Regions from separate parts of the Homo sapiens genome. Here region 2 is linked to region 1. Evidence: fine-mapped expression QTL. Tissue or cell type: blood mononuclear cells. Region 1 holds a variant in brackets; the other region holds the start of a gene. All regions are shown on one strand. Distances are from middle to middle.

The links. PIP is the estimated chance that this variant, and not a neighbour inherited with it, causes the effect.
Region 2: MTR starts here. The variant in region 1 is fine-mapped to the expression of MTR in blood mononuclear cells (TOPMed, PIP above 0.99).

Annotation. Positions count from the first base shown.
Region 1 is chr1:236,888,681-236,894,276 of GRCh38, reverse strand. MTR (5-methyltetrahydrofolate-homocysteine methyltransferase) reads right to left here. Exons shown (of 33, transcript NM_000254.3): 28 at 4,941-5,096; 29 at 2,948-3,144. Among named protein-coding and RNA genes, the nearest start is that of MTR, 96 kb to the right of the region's middle. The variant C/G (reference allele first, on the strand shown) is at 2,272.
Region 2 is chr1:236,793,031-236,797,770 of GRCh38, reverse strand. MTR (5-methyltetrahydrofolate-homocysteine methyltransferase) reads right to left here and starts at 2,479. Exons shown (of 33, transcript NM_000254.3): 1 at 2,034-2,479. The coding sequence starts at 2,067. RefSeq lists enhancers at 1,874-2,063, 2,164-2,453.

The DNA.
Region 1 (5,596 bases):
GTATCGTCAAATGAGAATAAGCTTCACAACGCACAGATGGCAGCCTGTATTGTGCACTGTTACATCCCCAGTACTTGGAATTGTGTCTGACACATAGTGAGTATCCAATAAATATTTGTAAGATAAACAAATGAAATGAGATTTTTAAAAAATGTATGACATGACGTAACATAAATTGTCAAGACACCAGTTCACTGGCTCATTCACACACTGACCAAACATTTACTGAATGCCTTCAGGCACTGTGCTAAAGTCACGGTTTAAAAAAAAAAAAAAATTTGTCCCCAAGTGTTTTCAATTAAGTCCAGCACCATGTTCAAAAGAGATCCAATAAATGGAAGCGCCTCCACTCTCCATCAACAGCAGCAGCTCAAACAACAAACTGTTGGGGTCAGCGATGCCCAGGCCATGTGCTGCCTGCCATGTGGGGTGGGGTCAAGGGTCATACAGGAGCCGGCTGAGGACACCCAGGGCTGGCTGGGCACCAAACCAAGAATTCAGCAGGATTTGCTTCTGGATTTTCTCCACAGCCCTGGGGCCTACCCTCCCCCATTTTTCACCCTCAGCTCATAAGCAACTCTTCCCTGCAACTAAGGTAACAAATAAAGTCTTATACATATTAAAAAAATCAATAAATATTTGCTGAGAAGGTAAATAGCTTATAATACTCATTCAGTGGTTACTGTATGCCTGCTCTTGGTGCTTTATATGAATTACTATTTAACCCTCTCAACCACCTTGTGACATAGGTGATACCATCAGCTCCATTTTACAGACAAGAAATCAGGGGCATAGGAAGCTTGATCAACTGGCCCAAGGTCAGACAGTGGGAGGGGCCAGGGGGCTGGTACCACAACCCATGCGTCTACATATATGGTACTGCTCAGGACTGATCAATTAATCAATGAGTGGCCAACCCACACACTTCACAGCTCGTTGCCCGCCGTGGAAGCAAGTACAGCTTCATTGACACAGGGCAGGAAATTGTTAAGTACAGGCGAGGAGGTGTTTGGTAATGGCACACAGGAATGTCACAGAGCTCAGGGACAGCTGTGCATGGGGAAGCCGTTTTCCAGGTATACTCGGCCCATCAATTATTCTTTGCTAACAAAGGCCAGAGGGGGACCCAAAGCTTCCCTGCGCCACAGGAGAGAGAGATCACAGAGCCCCATGGTACCTTCGAAGAGACAGCAATCAGAGCCTACTCAGAAGAGCAGACTCCCAGAGTAATAAGGCACTGCCACCAGAATGTTCCAGAGTGCACTGGAGGAAAGCCCCTCCTGAGAAATTGCTACCTGGGTAGGTAATGTATGTGCCTGGCCCAGTTCCCCTCTCCAGAGGCTACTAAAAAGGTGAACTCTGAGAATTCATTCTATTAAATGCCCTAATATGTCACAGACTGCCCGGACATGAATGGTACTGAAAGTAAAAAGAGATCGCAGAGGACACAGGACTTGAAAGATGAAAGACTGGGCTAGAGCAGAGGTTTTTGAACAGTTATGTCTGTAAAAGAATAGCCACAAATTCCCTAGTGAGGAGGGGCTGGAACTTAACATTAGAACCCCAGTGCCTTATATTCTGTGGCGTCCGAGCCTGGGCGCATACAGTGAGGATTTACTGAGCCTAAGTGCATATGGTAAGGATGTAGCTGTCCTTGTTTAATTCTTCATGGTACTGCTGAAGGCCCCAAATTTAAGAATCCCTTCAGATGCTGTTATGGTAAAAATATGGATGATTATGAATTATATTGTGGTTGGGATTAAAATGCGCCACTATCTTTTTTGTTTGTTTTTTAGAGACAGGGTCTCACTCTGTTGCCCAGGTTGGAATACAGTGGCATGATCATGGCTTACTGCAGCCTCGATCTCCTAGGCTCAAGTGATCCTCCCGCCTCATCCTCCCGAGTAGCTGGCTGAAGAAGTACAGGCCTGCACTCCCCAGTGCACGGCTCATTTTTAAATTTGTTTTGTAGAGACAGGGTCTTGCCATCTTGCCGGGGCTAGTCTCAAACTCCTAGGCTCAAGCAATCCTCCCACCTTGGCCTCTCAAAGTGCTGGGATTACAGGTGTGAGCCACTGTGCCCAGCCAACATTATTATTTCTGAACGACTGAAAATGGCAGTAAAACAGAGTAATTTTCTGCAAATTATTAAATTTGTTAATGACTCTGGTGAATTCTGGTTCCAATTCTTGATTAAGACACTCTTTTTTACAGCAGCTAAAGGGACATGCATATGATATTTGCCTTTTCAAAGGTGGGGGGGATGAGAGA[C/G]AAGTTGCTGAGAAGAGTCTGTTCTCGTCACTCGAAAGAAAAAAAGCCAGCACAGTCAAAGAACGGCCACTGGGGATATGTACAGGCTGGGCTCTCCTCTCTATATTGGGGGGCCCAGCACAATCTCCATCATCCTTCATCTTCTCTGTAAAACACAAACTTAAACTGCCTCACACGGCTGTGTGGAAATTAAAAGCATGACCATCAAGCACCTTACTATGCACCTGGCACCTGGTATACATTCTGCAAATGTTTGTTTCCACCTGTCTTCCCCTTTCAAGGGAAGCCACCTGACAGTCTATTTTAATAATATGCATAGATATTAACCTACGTTTTTGAACAAGTGAGTGTTCTCTTTCTTCAGAAGCTAAGAAGACTGAGATCCTGACACGTGACCACCTGAGACAGCAGCAATGGTCCTCGCCCATCCATGGAACACAATATTAAACGCCTCACTCCTGCTGAGTGGTCCTGCCTCTGACACCCATGGTGGCGCCTTCTCTCCCTCGTCCTCACAGATGGCTTGGGCTTGGGCGTGTGACTGGTCACTTCTTGGGCATGTGATTGGTCATTTGGGAGGAGGTGAAGCAGACCCTCATTTATGCAAAGCTCTTTTGTGTAGTGCTTAAACTCACAAGCGAAAGCGGTGTGCTGGCTGTCAGTACACCTTCCATACCTGTTGCCTTAACCCATAGAAGGTGGCTATGGGCTCTGCAGCCTGGGGCACAGCAGCCTCTGCGTACAGGTGAATGTCGTCTTGGATACTCTGTGCTGGCCAGAACCCAACCACACCCCGGGCCCGGAGTTTCTTTTGACTAATCAGTGTGTTCAGCATATTGTGGGCATCATCGTAGACCTTCCTGGCCTCTCCACCTATTAGAAAAACAGAATTAGAATTCACTTAAAGATGCCAAAAATAACCATCAAACAATGCTTCTTTTAAAAGCCATTACCCCTCCTCAGTCACCTTCCCTCTTCAGGCTTCTCCATTTTCCTCAAATGCTTTCTGGTGTTTGCCACTGACCCAGCTTAAAGTGGAACAGCCAGGGCTTTGCGGCTCCTGCTAAGTGCAGCTCCCACAGTCTGCTTCTCCCAGTTCAAGCCACTCAAGTTTTCCACTGGACAAAAAGCAGAGAGCCAAAGCTGTGGCTCCCCAAAGCATTCTGTCAGAGAGGATGAGAAAGAGCAGGCCACATTCCTCACTGACATTCCTCGTGCACATACAACTCCACTGACTTTGCAGTGACCTCTGGGAGACGCGACCTGTGCCTCGTATTCCGTGGTGCTTTTAATCCCAACTACAATATAATTCGTAACGATTGACATTTTGACCGTAACAACCTCTGAAGGGATTCTTCAATTTGGGGCCTTCAACAGTACCATGAAGAGTTAAACAAGGACAGCTACATCCTCACCCTATGCACTCAGACTCGGTAAATCCTCACTGTATGCGTCCAGGCCCAGACACCACAGAATACAAAGCATGGTGAATATAAGGCACAGGCCCCGTCCCCCAGAGGTCGCTGTGAAGTCAGTGGAATTGTATGTGTACAGGGAACGTTAGTGGTAAGGGGTGAAGTGTGGCCCAAATCCTCACATGTGGCTTCAATGCTGCACCTGGGCTGGCCTGCTCCCGGACCTGCAGTGGGAGCCAGCCTCCGAGGACACCATCTCGGTTTCCGTGAGACTCGGCCACCCTGCCCATGGTGAGAAGCCTGTCCCACGGCCCCTGGACAGCTCACCTGTGATGATTCAGGGGCAGCACACTAAGAAGCCCCTTGCTCATCACCACGTTCCTGACTACCTGAGAGTTCCTGAGTCTCAGCATCCGAACACGCACACCCAGGCACGCCCCCCCGTGGGAAACTTGGCAAAAGGCTGGTTTCTAGGCTCCTCTCAGCCCTAATCCCATGCTTCTGTGAGTCTACCCCTCCCTGCTGCTCTGATCTGGCTACTACCTGATCCTTTGAATGGCTTTGCATTTGGATTCCGTGTCTCTGTCGGTGGATTCTGGGGTAAGGCTAGAAGTGAGAAGTGGGGGTAGTAATTTAACACCTCACTTACTTCTCTAGTTTATCACCCTAAATCCCCATTCCCTCCCCAATGCTCCAAGCACAATGGGCTCCTTGCAGTTCCCCAAATAGGCACATGTGCCTGTGCCTTCTCACACTGTCTCCTCTACCTGGAATGACCTTTTCTTCAACACCATATCACATCCACAGTCCCAGCCACGGCAACTCCCACTGAATCGTCAAAAACAGTTCGAACACCACCTTGTCCAGGAAGCCTGCCCTGACCTCCCAGTCTGAGCTCTATCTCCTCTTATGTCCACAGGAGCCCAGGCAGGGCCCATTACTATTGGATGTGCCAGCTAGTCAGGTGCTAGACAGCAGGGATTATATTGTCTTCCATTTATCCCTAGTGCTCAGCATGTAACTGATGTCAATAAACATTTATTGAAAGAATAAAGTAAATACCAAATTTAGTTGATGCAATAAGGACCAATCTAGCAGATTGAAAACCATTAAAAAGTTGGGCAGGTGAGCAATATGAAAGCAGCCGTAATCTGCACAATCCAAATCCACTGCTCCTCACCGATTCCGGTCTTCAAAGTCACAATCCCACAGCTTGAATATCAGAGGCAGAAAGGAAGGACTTACTGCACTAACCTACTGTTTTGTCGTTAAATATCTTGGGAAAGCCTCGATTCGGGTACTTGCCCCGGAGCTGCCAGACATCAAAGAAAGGCTTCCAGTCAATGTAGTCCACCAGCTTCTGCAGGTCATAGTCTTCAAAGACCTGGGTCCCAATAAACGTGGGCTTCACTACAGGAGAGAAGTATGGTTGTCAATGCTGACGCTGGCACCCTGCCTGATGGAGGCCTCCCTGCCAGCTCCTCACTGCTCTGCCAACTCCCACACTCCGCCTCCCTCCTGTCACCCGTAGGAGTTGTTTTACAAAGAGGGGAACTTTAAATTATCGTGGAGAAGGAGTAATTCTGCACTGAGTCTTAAATAAAACTATTCTTCACATGCAGCTGACTACACCACCCTTGGAAACTGTTCCCTCAACCCTTCCATCCCCACCCCCTGCCCAAGAAGGAAAGACAGACGGGTTAATCCTCACTTGCACAAATGAAGACAAGGTGAACATGAAGAACATGAAAGAACATGAAGAACATGTCCAGAAAGACATGGAGAGTAAGCTACTTATCTAAAGTTTCAAAACCGGAAACAATCATCTAGATTGTCTACTGACACATATGCTCAAAGTATAGGCAAATGAAGTCCCAAATTCAGGACTGCTGTGCTTTCTGCAGGGGAGG
Region 2 (4,740 bases), 96 kb after region 1:
GCCAGGCTGGTCTCGAACTCCTGACCTCAGGTGACCCGCACGCCTCGGCCTCCCAAAGTGCTGGGATTACAGATATGAGCCACCGCGCCCAGCTTCTTTGGGGGCATCTCTTTGCTTGTGCAGTATTCCATTTTTAATATATATTATTTCCCCCTTTGATTTTAATAAGCCGGAGAAGAATTAGGCTGATACCAATTCACTGGATTATTCATTCCTTCATTAATCACTCATCAATTGATACCAATTCACTGGATTATTCATTCCTTCATTAATCACTCATCAATTGAGTTCCAAATAACACTCACAGTCCTAAGCAAGGATGAAACCAAGAAACTTTTAGAAGCTGTAGTTAAAATTTTCTCCCAAGATGTATTTGCTAGCCCACCATCCTCCTTCCCCAGGGCACACAACCATGGTCTGAAGTCACATTTAGTTTTAAGGCCCAACCTTGAGAATCAGGAATTCCCAGCTCTCCATTAAAATTTCATTAAGATTGTACGCCAGTAAATTACTAAGGGTTATTAGGAAGTTAAAACCTGATTCTAATCCCAATAAAAGTTGCTCACATAGACAGAAGCTGGACTACATCTAAGGTCTTTTCTAGGCACAATGGCCTGATTCAGAACTTCAGAGGCCCTAGACTTGGTTAAACTCCACTCAGTGCTCAACTCTAGAAGCCAGCCTTGGGGGTGAGGGGACTAGGCAAGATTCAAACATTCAACAATTTTCCTTTCAGTTTATTTTTTTTTTTTAAATCACTCACTATTCACAGTATTTTAAGTCTTCAGTGGCATTTTGCTCCTGATAATGACACCTAAATTCAGATGAAAGGGAAATAACTTTACTTGTTTAAATTAAATGGGAAGGGGGAGGCCAGAAATCATGAGTAAAAGATGTTTTCCAAATAAATATGATCTCCCTATGATCATTTATTCAATAAGATATAAATCTCTTATAGGGAGGTTTACATTTATTAATTAAATATTAAATATAAATAAGATGTAACCTCATTACATCTTATTTAATATATTAAATAACATATAAACCTCTCATAGGGAGGTTTATATCTTATTTAATAACAGCAGTGATGTGTTTCTCAGCCACAGTTCCACTAGTTTCAAGAACAATTATATCAGTCCCGTTATCAGAACCCAAGAATCAAGAGAGTCACCGGTTAACCTCTGATAAATTTCCTTGTGCGTTACGAATTTAGTATTCCCCCTCTTCCTGAAGCTAAACATCCCCACTATGTGATAGGATATTTACTGTTTTGTACTTATCACTAATTCTCGTTTCTACATCTCCTCACCCGTTTTTACGGGTGTATTTGTCCTCAAATTATAATCAGGCATGACCTTAGAGATCTAGAGCTCGTTATAAAGCTAACATTACGTTCAGTTCTCGTGCTAAACTAGCTTTTTCTCACTGTTGATCCCAGGGCCACCAACATCAGAATCGCTTGAAATTACTACCTCCCATTTCGGTATCTGGAGGTGGGGTCTGCTCATCTATTTTAACATAGTGAGTCTATGCATATTGCAGTTTTGCAGCAGCGTGCGTAGAAGCAGAAAATAAAAAGTTCCATGTAGTAGTTTTAAATAGTTCTCTGAGTTTCCTCGTCTGTCTCTCCGCGCCTGAACTTTCTTTCGCAGTAGGTGCGCAATACATATTTACGAATAAGCGTCACACCATGCAAAAAAAAAAACTTCCAGAGGGCCCAGCTGGTTTATGCTGCGTGGAACTGGAAAGTTTAGTTACTGTGACGTTAAGAATGTGTTTCGGGGGCGAGGGGAGGACGCTTTTTGCAGGTTTTGATGGCTTGCCTGGGGAGAAAGAGGTGAAGGTCGGACAAAGAGTGGAGCAAAACACGTAGCCCTCCGGGCTCCTGCGCTAAGTTCTAAAGGTGCCGCCCACACGCGGGGAAACACCGCCGGGCGTCTCCCGCCGCAGAAGGGAATCGCCCCAGGGATTAGGAGGCCACAGCACGAGTTAAGAAACACAACCCAACCACGCAGACGGGGTCGCAGCGTTACCGGGTTGCGACAGGTCTTGGAGCGCGGGTGACATGTTGTCGAGTCTCCTCCTTGCGCAGAGGGCGCGGCAGAGAAGACGTGCTCTCCACAGGTGACGACGGCCAAGGGCCACGCCAGCCAGCGCCAGGCGAGCCTGCCACACAAGGCCCGGGTCTTTTGACGCCTCCCGTTGGCTCGCGTCGCGGGGGGACTGCGGACCCCGAAAGCCCGCAGCGCCCTAGGGCCTCTCTCGGGGCTGGGCGCGGCAACTGCTGGAGCACGTGCTTTCTTCCCGGGTACCCGGCCAGTCCTTGGTGTCGGCCTAGCAGCCAGACACGCGCGGCCAGAGGCGGAGTCGCGGGACGGCACGGAAAAGGACCCAAGAGAAAACCGGCAGAGGAGGACGACGTGACATCCGGCTCTGAGCCCCGCAGACATTTAGAACCTTTCAGAGCGCGGTTAGTTCTGCGCTCAATCTATCCTCGGCGTGGGAGGTCCCGCCCCTTCCGGCCTGTGATTGGTCTGCCCGAGCTCCTCGCAGCCGCATTGGCTGTCAATATCAACCAATCACCTGCTGTTTAGCCCCGGGGCTCTCTGGGAGATGTAGTCCCGCTCCCCAGTTTCCCGCGGGAGCTTTTCGCGTCTCTGTGTGCCCAGGATCCGGAAGTGTAAGCCTAAGTGGCCCCTCTAAGGAAAAGTCACAGCGCCAAGTTCGTGCTGATCTCGACACGCTGTGTGGTGTCGAGCCTGAAATTTTAGTTCCGTTTTGCTGTTGACTTGCGCTGGGCAAGACAGTTAACCTCTCAGTCTCCACACTCTACAAACAAGAATGATAGGATGGTAGTAATTAGAATTTTTTAGGGTTGTAGTAGGCGTTAAATGAGATCGTTTGACCGCGCTATGAAAACTCTGAATTACCATATGGGGGTGTTAATTGTAACTTATTGACAGTAAACATATATTGAGCACCTACTATGTGTCAGGCATTGGGGCACACACTTGGAATGCAAAATCAGACAAGCTACATCGCACCCTCACGTCCTTGGAGGAGGAACTCACAACCTAGTTAGATTAATAATTGAACAGGGAAAAAAGAACCACATACATTTTAAAAGAGCTAGAGTATTCAAAGGGGCCAGGGAAAGGTTTCAAAGAAGAATCTGGGTCCTGAAGGAAGAGTGGTACCAGGTAAGGTTGTTCCAGTCAGGAGAAGCTCCCTGTGTACAACACAGCACTTTAGGGAATTCTAAAATAAAGGGCAGCTCTGTAAGGCCGAGCATGGTAGATGTGAGAAAAAGCAAATTCATCTAGAAAAATCTCTGTAAGGCTGAGCATGGTAGATGTAAGGAAAAGCAAATGCATCCAGAAAAATAAAAACTATAACCAAATTATGACATTTACTAAGCTTTAAAAAAGGCACAAATTTGCATGCCATTCTCATTTTATTGTATGTAATTATACCTCAATTTTGAAGATTTGAAAAATTATTATAATGCGTATCACATTCTTACCAAGACCATCTTACCAAAGATGGTCTTACTTGGAAGGTGGGGGGAATGGAGTAGGTGAGAGAGAATGCAACAAAGAAGGGAGGGAGGAATGAGATGGCCCTAAATAGCCAAAAATCTTAAGATTATAAGGGCTAGGGTGAGAGTAGGTGAGGGATAAACGACTACACATTGGGTGCAGTGTCCACTGCCTAGGTGATGGGTGCACCAAACTCTCAAATCACCACTAAAGAACTTATTCATGTAACCAAACACCACCTGCTCCCCAAAAACCTATTGAAATAAATAAGTTAAAAAAAAAGAAGAAGAAAAGGAGGAAAGAAAAAAAAGCAAGGTCTTCTATGCTGAACTTATTAAATTATTTATCCAGGCTTGATAAATCATGATGGTTTTCTCATATTTATTATTATGTTTATTCATTTCTCAACTCCTGAGTTTTTATCTGCAAAAAAAGAAGTAGTGAAATTTAACTGTGTAAAGATGCACCTGTCTAAAAAAAAAAAAAAAAGATTATAAGGGCTAGTTGTTTGTTTGTTTGAGACGGAGTCTCACTCTGTCGCACAGTCTGGAGCGCACTGGCACGATCTTGGCTCAGCTCACTGCAACCTCCGCCTCCCGGGTTGAAGCTAGTTTTTTAATTATCATGTATCCCTCAAAGTTTGTTGACGTGTTTCTTGAAAAATGATCTTTCAGGCACCTAGTCGGCAACTGTCCCCCATTCACATTCTCTTACTGGAAATTCCAGGAGTTGTGTGCCAGTCCCTGTTTGATGCAAGTCATCAAAGTTTACTCTCTCAGCTAAAACTGACCAAATTCTGTATTTCTTAAAGTCGTAAAAGAGTAACAAATAAGATTAGAGGAATACATAGTGCCTAAAGGGGCAGTGAATTTCTAGTACAAAAACGCGATTTACAGTTCCAAGAATACTGTATGGGTTGCAATGTGTCCCCCTCAAAGATATGTTGAAGCCCTAACTTCCAGTGCTTCAGAATATGACCCTATTTGGGCCGGGTGCAGTGGCTCACACCCGCAATCCCAGCACTTTGGGAGGCCGAGACTGGTGGATCGCTTGAGGCCAGGAGTTCGAGACCAGCCTGGGCAATATGGTGAAACCCCATCTCTGCTAAAAATACAAAAATTAACCAGGCGTGGTGGCTCACATCTGTAATCCCAGCACTTTGGGAGGCTGAGGTGGGCGGATCACCTGAGGTCGGGTGTTC